Linked DNA regions of Homo sapiens. The protein of the gene in region 2 interacts with the protein of the main gene of each other region in a pairwise test. Each region holds a gene or a part of one and is shown on either strand. Other genes may lie near its edges. The genes, in order: STAT5A and AQP11.

Region 1 (3,818 bases), on a different chromosome or scaffold from region 2:
TCTGTCTAAAAAAAAAAAAAAAAAAGTATCCATCATGTGCCAGGCTCGGTGGCTTACGCCTGTAATCCCAGCACTTTGGGAGGCTGAGACAGGCAGATCACTTGAGGTCAAGAGTTCGAGACCAGCCTGGCCAACATGGCAAGACCCTGTCTCTACTAAAAATACAAAAATTAGCTGGGCATGGTGGCGCATGCCTGTAATCCCAGCTACTTAGGAGGCTGAGGCAGGAGAATTGCTTGAACCCGGGGTTAAAGGTTGCAGTGAGCCGAGAGCACCACTGCACTCCAGCCAAGGCAACAGAGCAAGACTCCATCTCAAAAAAAAAAAAGTATCCATTATGAAATACGTAAGACACAGGGGATGTGGAACACAAGGGCGCCTGTGTATCAATAACCCAGGCTAAGAAAGTAAACATGTCCACAGTTACAACCACCACCGCAGGCCCACCCCACCCTCCCAGCGACAGCCCGTCTCCACCACACTGGGACTATTAATCCCTTCCCATCACCTTCTCAACAGCCCAGCGTCCTTGCTTGAGCTGAGTCAGAAGATGCGCGCACCAGCATGTCTTGGTCGAGCTCCTGGCTGGCCCCTGAGGGCCACGTCACTCTGACCCCAGCCCTGACCCATGGGATGCACAAGCTGGGACAGACAAAAGCAACTCTATGTAGCCAGGAACAGCCCAGAGCTAGAACTCAGAAATATGGCTCCAATCTCACTGCAGGTATCGAGCAGGAAGAGGATCATCCAGGCACGGACAGATCCGAGGTGTCTGCACGGCTACCTCGGGTATCCTGCCCAGCCACAGGGAGGGTGGTGGTGATCCCAACACCTGGGCCCAGCCTTCCTATGCAAGGGACCCACTTAGGGCTCTCCTGGAAATTTGCAGAAGCTTTTAGGAAGGAGGCCAGGGAGACGGGAAGCAATTTCCCTACTCCACTGGAGGCAGCTGAGCCTTCCCTGGCAAAAGCAGATCAATAGTCTGTGTTTCTGCTGAGTGAACTTGACAAATGGGACTGAGAAGACACTGCATGATAGATCCAAACCCAACCTGAATCCAAACCTAATCCGCCACCATGCACAGGAAACAGAAAAGCCAGGCACGGGATCAGAAATACTGTCGACAGTCTAAGGACTTGGGTAGGAATAACCGCCCAAAATCTTCCGTTTCCATTCTCAGAAGGAGCTGCCCTTCTTCTAGGGCCAGTCTGGGATAGATTCAGATGAGGGGAAATTCTCTTAGAATTATCCTGTCAGTATTGGCTGGGCACCGTGGCTCACGCCTATAATCCTAGCACTTTGGGAGGCCGAGGCAGGCAGATCACTCGAGGCTAGAGGTTGCAACCAGCCTGGACAACACGGCACAACCCTGTATCTACTAAAACTACAAAAAAAAAAAATTAGCCAGGCATGGTGGTGCATGTCTGTAGTCCCAGCTACTGAGGAGGCTGAGGCATGAGAATAGTTTGAACCTGAGAGGCAGAGGTCGCAGTGAGATGAGATCGTGCCACTGCACTCCAGCCTGGGCAATAATAAATAAACAAACAAACAAACAAACATTTAGAATTATCCTGCAAGTATTTACATAATAGCTGCAATATTCAGGCATTGTGCTGGTCTCAGTGTACACAAAGCACTGACAGTGCAGGGTTAGGAAGAGAGCTTAAATAGCTACAATAGAATTCTAAAAAAATCAGCTGGGCGTGGTGGCCTGCACCTGTAGTCCCAGCTATGCGGGAGACTGAGGCACAAGAATTTCTTGAAGCTGGGAAGCAGAGGCTGCAGTGAGCCGAAATCATGCCACTGTGCTCCAGCCTGGGCGACAGAGCAAGATTGTCTCAAAAAAAAGAAAAGAAAAAGAAAGAAAAGAAAAGAAGAAAGGTCTAAAATCAATGACCTAAGGTCTACCTTAAGAAATCAGATTAAAAAGAGTAAAGGAAAAAGCAGTTTGACACCCCTTGTTCTCACTAAGATGAGGTGTTACATTTCTGGGGTCAGTCTGGAATGGGACATATTAATAGATGGGCCATGTCCCATGACTCCTCAAATTGTACCTGGGGATAGTTCCTTTCAAGCTAATTTGATTTTTTAATTTCCCCACATCTTTATCATGGGAGCCATTGGCGAACTACAGACCTAGGATACAGGAGAATTTTCTACTGTCACCCCTTCCCCCAGGCCCACATCCTATCCGTGAGGCTCAAGAAGGCCCACTTTGGAAGTTCCACCTCTCCCAGCCTGGTTCAACCAGAAGACTTCCAATCCAAGTCCTCCCTCTGGTTAGGGAGCACTGTTCATATTTACCTATTTGTGTCGATATTTACAGAATACATACCATTAAGGAGAGAATACTGGTTAATAAAGTACAGGAGTTTTATGATATATCTCTAGTTGAGATCCAGTTCTGTAATTTACAGGCAACCTAGGCCAAGTTACTTGTTCTCTTTGAACCTCACTTTTACCATCTGCAAAAGGGGGGATAACACAACTGTTCACTTCATAGGCTTGTTGAGAGGGTTGAATTAAATAATGTGTGCCAAGTGTGACCCACGGCAGGGGCTCAATCACCGGGAGCCATTGCTTCTACCAGGCTTTGGGCAAAGTGCTGAGGAGATGGACACTGACCCAGCTCTACCCTCTAGGAGTCCATAGAATGTTCCTCACTCCCACCCTCCGGATGCACACTGCCTCCACCGCGCCTCACCTTGGATCCTCAGGCTCTCCTGGTACTGGATGATGAAGTACTCCTGAGTCTGCTGCAGTTTCTTCAGCTCATTCTCTGTGTCCTGCGTGACCAGTCGCAGCTCCTCAAATGTCTGGTTGATCTGAAGGTGCTTCTGGGACATGGCGTCAACCAGGATCCCAGCCGGAGAGCTGCACTGGAGACAGATGGAATGGAAATAACTCGGGGAAGAGAGGATGGGAGAAGACCACAGGCATTAGGAAACACCAATACTACAGACCCCAAACCCCAAACCCCAAACTAGGGTAAGAAGGGAAACTAGGGCAAGAAGGAAGGATCATTTGCATCAGAAGGAGTCATTTGCCAGAATTGGGATAGAAAAGGGAAAGAGAAAGGAGAAACAGGTGACCTGGCAGATAACGGCAGATAGTAACACCTTCAAAGTCCAAATATCTATGTCAGAGCTGCCCTCCACTAGAGTATTCCAAACAGGGTCCATCTAATTTCCTCCCAGGGACTAGAACTCAACACGTCCCAGGTGTCACCTGGGTTTTCCCACTAATGATGATGACCCCTCGCTCTACATTTATTTGCTGACTCAATACCATGGACTGCAGTAGATCCTAGGGACATAGGGAGGAACAGGGCTGTGTGAACACACACCATCTCACTTAAGACCCCCTTGTGACTGAAGGAAGAGGGAAGAGGCCGAAACTCTCACAGGCATCCTGGAGACCCCGAAATGAAGTTAGAGGGGAGGCATCAACAAGCTCCCCTTGGATCCAGCCATTCCTTCAGCACATTCAGGAGAATCGCTTGAACCCAGGAGGGGGATGTTGCAGTGAGCCGAGATTGCGCCACTGCACTCTAGCCTTGGCAACACAGCGAGACTCCGTTTCAAAAAAAAAAAAAATAGAGAGAGAGGGGTAGAAACCAGGTCACAAAGGGAGGGAGCACATGGATGAAGAGGAACAAGTCCTCAGAGGCTTTCCAATGAACTGTTCTCAGAATAAAATCCAAACCCCTTCCCATGGTGTCTGCTGGCCATAGCCCTGCCTACCTCCAACCCCAGCTCGCTGGGAATGTGTGCTTTCTGTTTCTGTTCCTTGAACACACAGGCATGTTCCTGCCCTGG
Region 2 (3,818 bases):
CCTGGGCAACAGAGCAAGTCTCAGTCTCAAAATAAATAAATAAGTAAATAACAGTAATAATATATCATTCCTGTAGGGTTTTATCTATATGTATAGTAAATGCACATGAAAAGAGTTTGGGCCTGGGTTTGATGGCTCATTCCTGTAATCCCAGCACTTTGGGAGGCTGAGATGGGCGGATTGGTTGAGTCCAGGAGTTCAAGACTAGCCTGGGCAACATAGCAAAACCCCCATCTCTACAAAAAATACAAAAATTGCCTGGGTATGGTGGCATGTACTTGTGGTCCCAGCTACTCGGGAGGCTGAGGTGGGAGGATCTTGTGAGCCGGGGAGGCGGAGGTTTTGATTGCACCACTGCGCTCCAGCCTGGGTGACAGAGTGAAGCCCTGTCTCAAAAAAATAAAAATAAAAACACAGTTTGGGGCTGGGCATGGTGCCTCACGCCTATAATCCCAGCACTTTGGGAGGCCGAGGCTGGTGGATCATTTGAGGTCAGCAGTTCAAGACCAGCCTGGGCAACATGGTGAAACCCCTACTAAAAATACAAAAAGTAGCCAGGTGTGGGGCCTGTCATGGGGTGGGGGGCTGGGGGAGGGATAGTATTAGGAGAAATACCTAATGTAAATCATGAGTTAATGGGTGCAGCAAACCAACATGGCACATGTATACCTATGTAACAAACCTGCACGTTGTGCACATGTACCCTAGATCTTAAAGTATAATTAAAAAAATAATTAATAAAGAAAAATTAGCCGGCTGTGGTGGCAGGTGCCTATAATCCCAGCTACTCCGGGGGCAAAAAGAAAAAAAAAATTAGCCAGGTGTGGCCAGGCATGGTGGCTCACGCCTGTAATCCCAGCACTTTGGGAGGCTGAGGCGGGCACATCACCTGAGGCTGGGAGTTCAAGACCAGCCTGACCAACATGGAGAAACCCTGTCTCTACTAAAAATACAAAATTAACCAGGCGTGGTGCTGCATGCCTGTAATCCCAGCTACTCGGGAGGCTGAGGCAGGAGAATCGCTTGAACCTGGGAGGCAGAGGTTGCAGTGAGCCTAGATCGTGCCATTGCACTCCAGTCTGGGCAACAAGAGTGAAACTCCATCTCAAACAAAAAAAAAATAATTAGCCAGGTGTGGTGGCAGACACCTTTAATCCCAGCTACTCAGGAGGCTGAGGCAGGATAATCATTTGAACCTGCGAGACAGAGGGTGCAGTGAGCCAAGATTGCACCACTGTGCTCCAGCCTGGGCGACAGAGCAAGACTCCATCTCAAGAAAAACCCAAAAAACAACAACAAAAACAACCAGTTTGGAAGGTTGTAACACAAACATCAGAGACAAGGATTACCGTGGAAGGAAGAGTAGACAGGGAAGGAAAGGAAACAGGCATGGAGGCATGGAGGATGGCAGTCAAAAGGCACTTTAGTCTTTGAATTTTTTACATAGAGAACATATCACGTATTGTGTAATTAAAAATGAATTATTTTTTAAAGAATCATCAGGCATGGAACTATCAAAAGATGGCTTCAAAAAACAAGTTACTATTTATTGACATTTGAAGGGGAGATGACAATCATGCATGTTGAAGAAGAGGTATAACCGGGAGATCCAGCTAGTCCACTGCCAAGAGTCAGAGGACAGCATGGATTTGGTGAAATTACCACAGCCAGAGGCTAAGTCTCAAATCTGGCAATTTTAGGCACTAAAGTTTCTCAATATTCCTAAAGGGAATAAAATTCTCTGTGACAGAAGAATACTAGTTAAATATCACATAACACCCATGTAGAAGCTGGAAGGTCTATTTATTCATTTAGAGTGGAAGCTAGCTTTCTAGTAACTGGAATATTTGTCTTCCCTCTCCAGAGAACCCATTTTAATGAGCACGTAAGCAAAGCAAAAGGAGTGTTATCATACCCTGATGAGCTCTGATAAAATATCATTGTCAGGAGTTGAAAATACCTCTCTAGGCCAGACGTGGTGGCTCACGCCTGTAATCCCAGCACTTTGGGAGGCCAAGGTGGGTGGATCACAAGGTCAGGAGTTCAAGACCAGCCTGGCCAAGATGGTGAAACCCCATCTCTACTAAAAGTACAAAAATTACAGCGCGCCTATGATCCCAGCTACTCGGGAGGCTGAGGCAGGAGAATCGCTTGAACCTGGGGGTCGGAGGTTGCAGTGAGCCGAGATCGCGCCACTGCACTCCAGCCTGGGTGACAGAGCGAGACGCCATCTCAAAAGAAAAAAGAAAAAAAGAAAATACCTCTCTAATGACAAGCCTGCTTGTTTTCCCCAAATTCAATCTCTACTCCCGGACATTACTGGGCAAATAATTTCAAAGTTTGCATCTCCAAACTCCACTTTTCATTTCTGGTTTGTATTCTGCTGATATGCTAATGTTACTAACTAAGCTAGCTAGCTAGCTGTTTTCTTTTCTTGAGAGATTCTCACTCTGTCATCCAGGCTGGAGTGCAGTGGTGCAATCTCAGCTCACTGCAACCTCCACCTCCTGGGTTCAAGCGATTCTCATGCCTCAGCTTCCTGAGTAGCTGAGACTACAGGCGCGAGCCACCATGCCCAGCTAATTTTTGTATTTTAAGTAGAGACTGGGTTTCGCCATTTTGGCCAGGCTGGTCTCGAACTCCTGGCCTCAAGCGATCCGCCCACCTTGGCCTCCCAAAGTGCTGGGATTACAGACATGAGCCACTGCGCCTGGCCTGTTTTCAAATTAGTGGTTATTCTTACAAACCTGGAAGAATGACATTAGACTGTTCTCAGATGTTGTGGGGAACACCTAGGGATTTGTACCAAAATCTTTACTTATTTTCAATGGACAAATTTCGTTATAAAAGTTACAACTTACATTTTCCTGAATTTATCCCAAAAGGAGTTGTGAGCAATAAAACTGATCAAATTATATGCAAAAATGATCAAATTATACTGGAAGCCTGTTAGAAATATAGAGGGAAATAATAATAATAAATAATAATTATTTCCCAAGTACTTCGTGTATGGCAGGTACTATGCTACAAACTTGAATTATTATTCCTCATACTAGTCTTATGAAATTTCTTCATTTTAGAGATGAGGAAAGTGAGGCCCAAAATAAGTATTCAGCCTAAGGGCACAGTCTTTTTTTTTTTAAATTGAAACAAGATCTCACTCTTTCACCCAGGCTGGAATGCAGTGATGAAATCATGGCTCAATACAGCCTCAAACTTCAGGGCTCAAGCAGTCTTACTGTCTCAGCCTCTTAAGTAGCTAAGACTACAGGCGTGCACCACCATACCTGGCTAATTTTAAAATTTTTTTGTAGAGACAGGGTCTTGCTATGTTGCCCAGACTGGTCTCAAACTGCTGGCCTCATGCAGTCCTCCTGTCTTGACGTCCCGGTCCTGGGATTACAGACATGAGCCACCATACCTGGCCTTAACCATTACATACATATATATATATATATATATATATATTTACATATATATTTACATATATATTTACACATATATATTTACACATATATTTACACATATATATTTACATATATATATATATTTTTTTTTTTTAATTGAGACATAGTCTCGCTCTGTTGCCCAGGCTGGAGTGCACTGGTGTGATATCAGCTCGCTGCAACCTCCGCCTCCCAGGTTCAAGCAATTCTACTGCCTCAGCCTCCCAAGCAGCTGGGATTACAGGCGCCCGCCACCATGCCAGGCTCATTTTTGTATTTTTAGGAGAGATGGGGCTTTACCATGTTGGCGTTGAATTGGTTAAAGAATAGTAGAGTAGTGACGATAATGAATAGGCTGTGGGTGGTCATGTT

What was found.
Region 1: the proteins of AQP11 (region 2) and STAT5A interact in a two-hybrid assay, tested with the Homo sapiens proteins (one large-scale study listed by BioGRID and IntAct).

Annotation. Positions count from the first base shown.
Region 1 is NC_000017.11:42,294,680-42,298,497, reverse strand, and holds part of STAT5A (signal transducer and activator of transcription 5A), read right to left. Parts: intron 2,880-3,818; coding exon 2,705-2,879; intron 1-2,704. UniProt on the Homo sapiens protein: Carries out a dual function: signal transduction and activation of transcription. Mediates cellular responses to the cytokine KITLG/SCF and other growth factors. Mediates cellular responses to ERBB4.
Region 2 is NC_000011.10:77,596,188-77,600,005, reverse strand, and holds part of AQP11 (aquaporin-11), read right to left. Parts: intron 1-3,818. UniProt on the Homo sapiens protein: Channel protein that facilitates the transport of water, glycerol and hydrogen peroxide across membrane of cell or organelles guaranteeing intracellular homeostasis in several organes like liver, kidney and brain.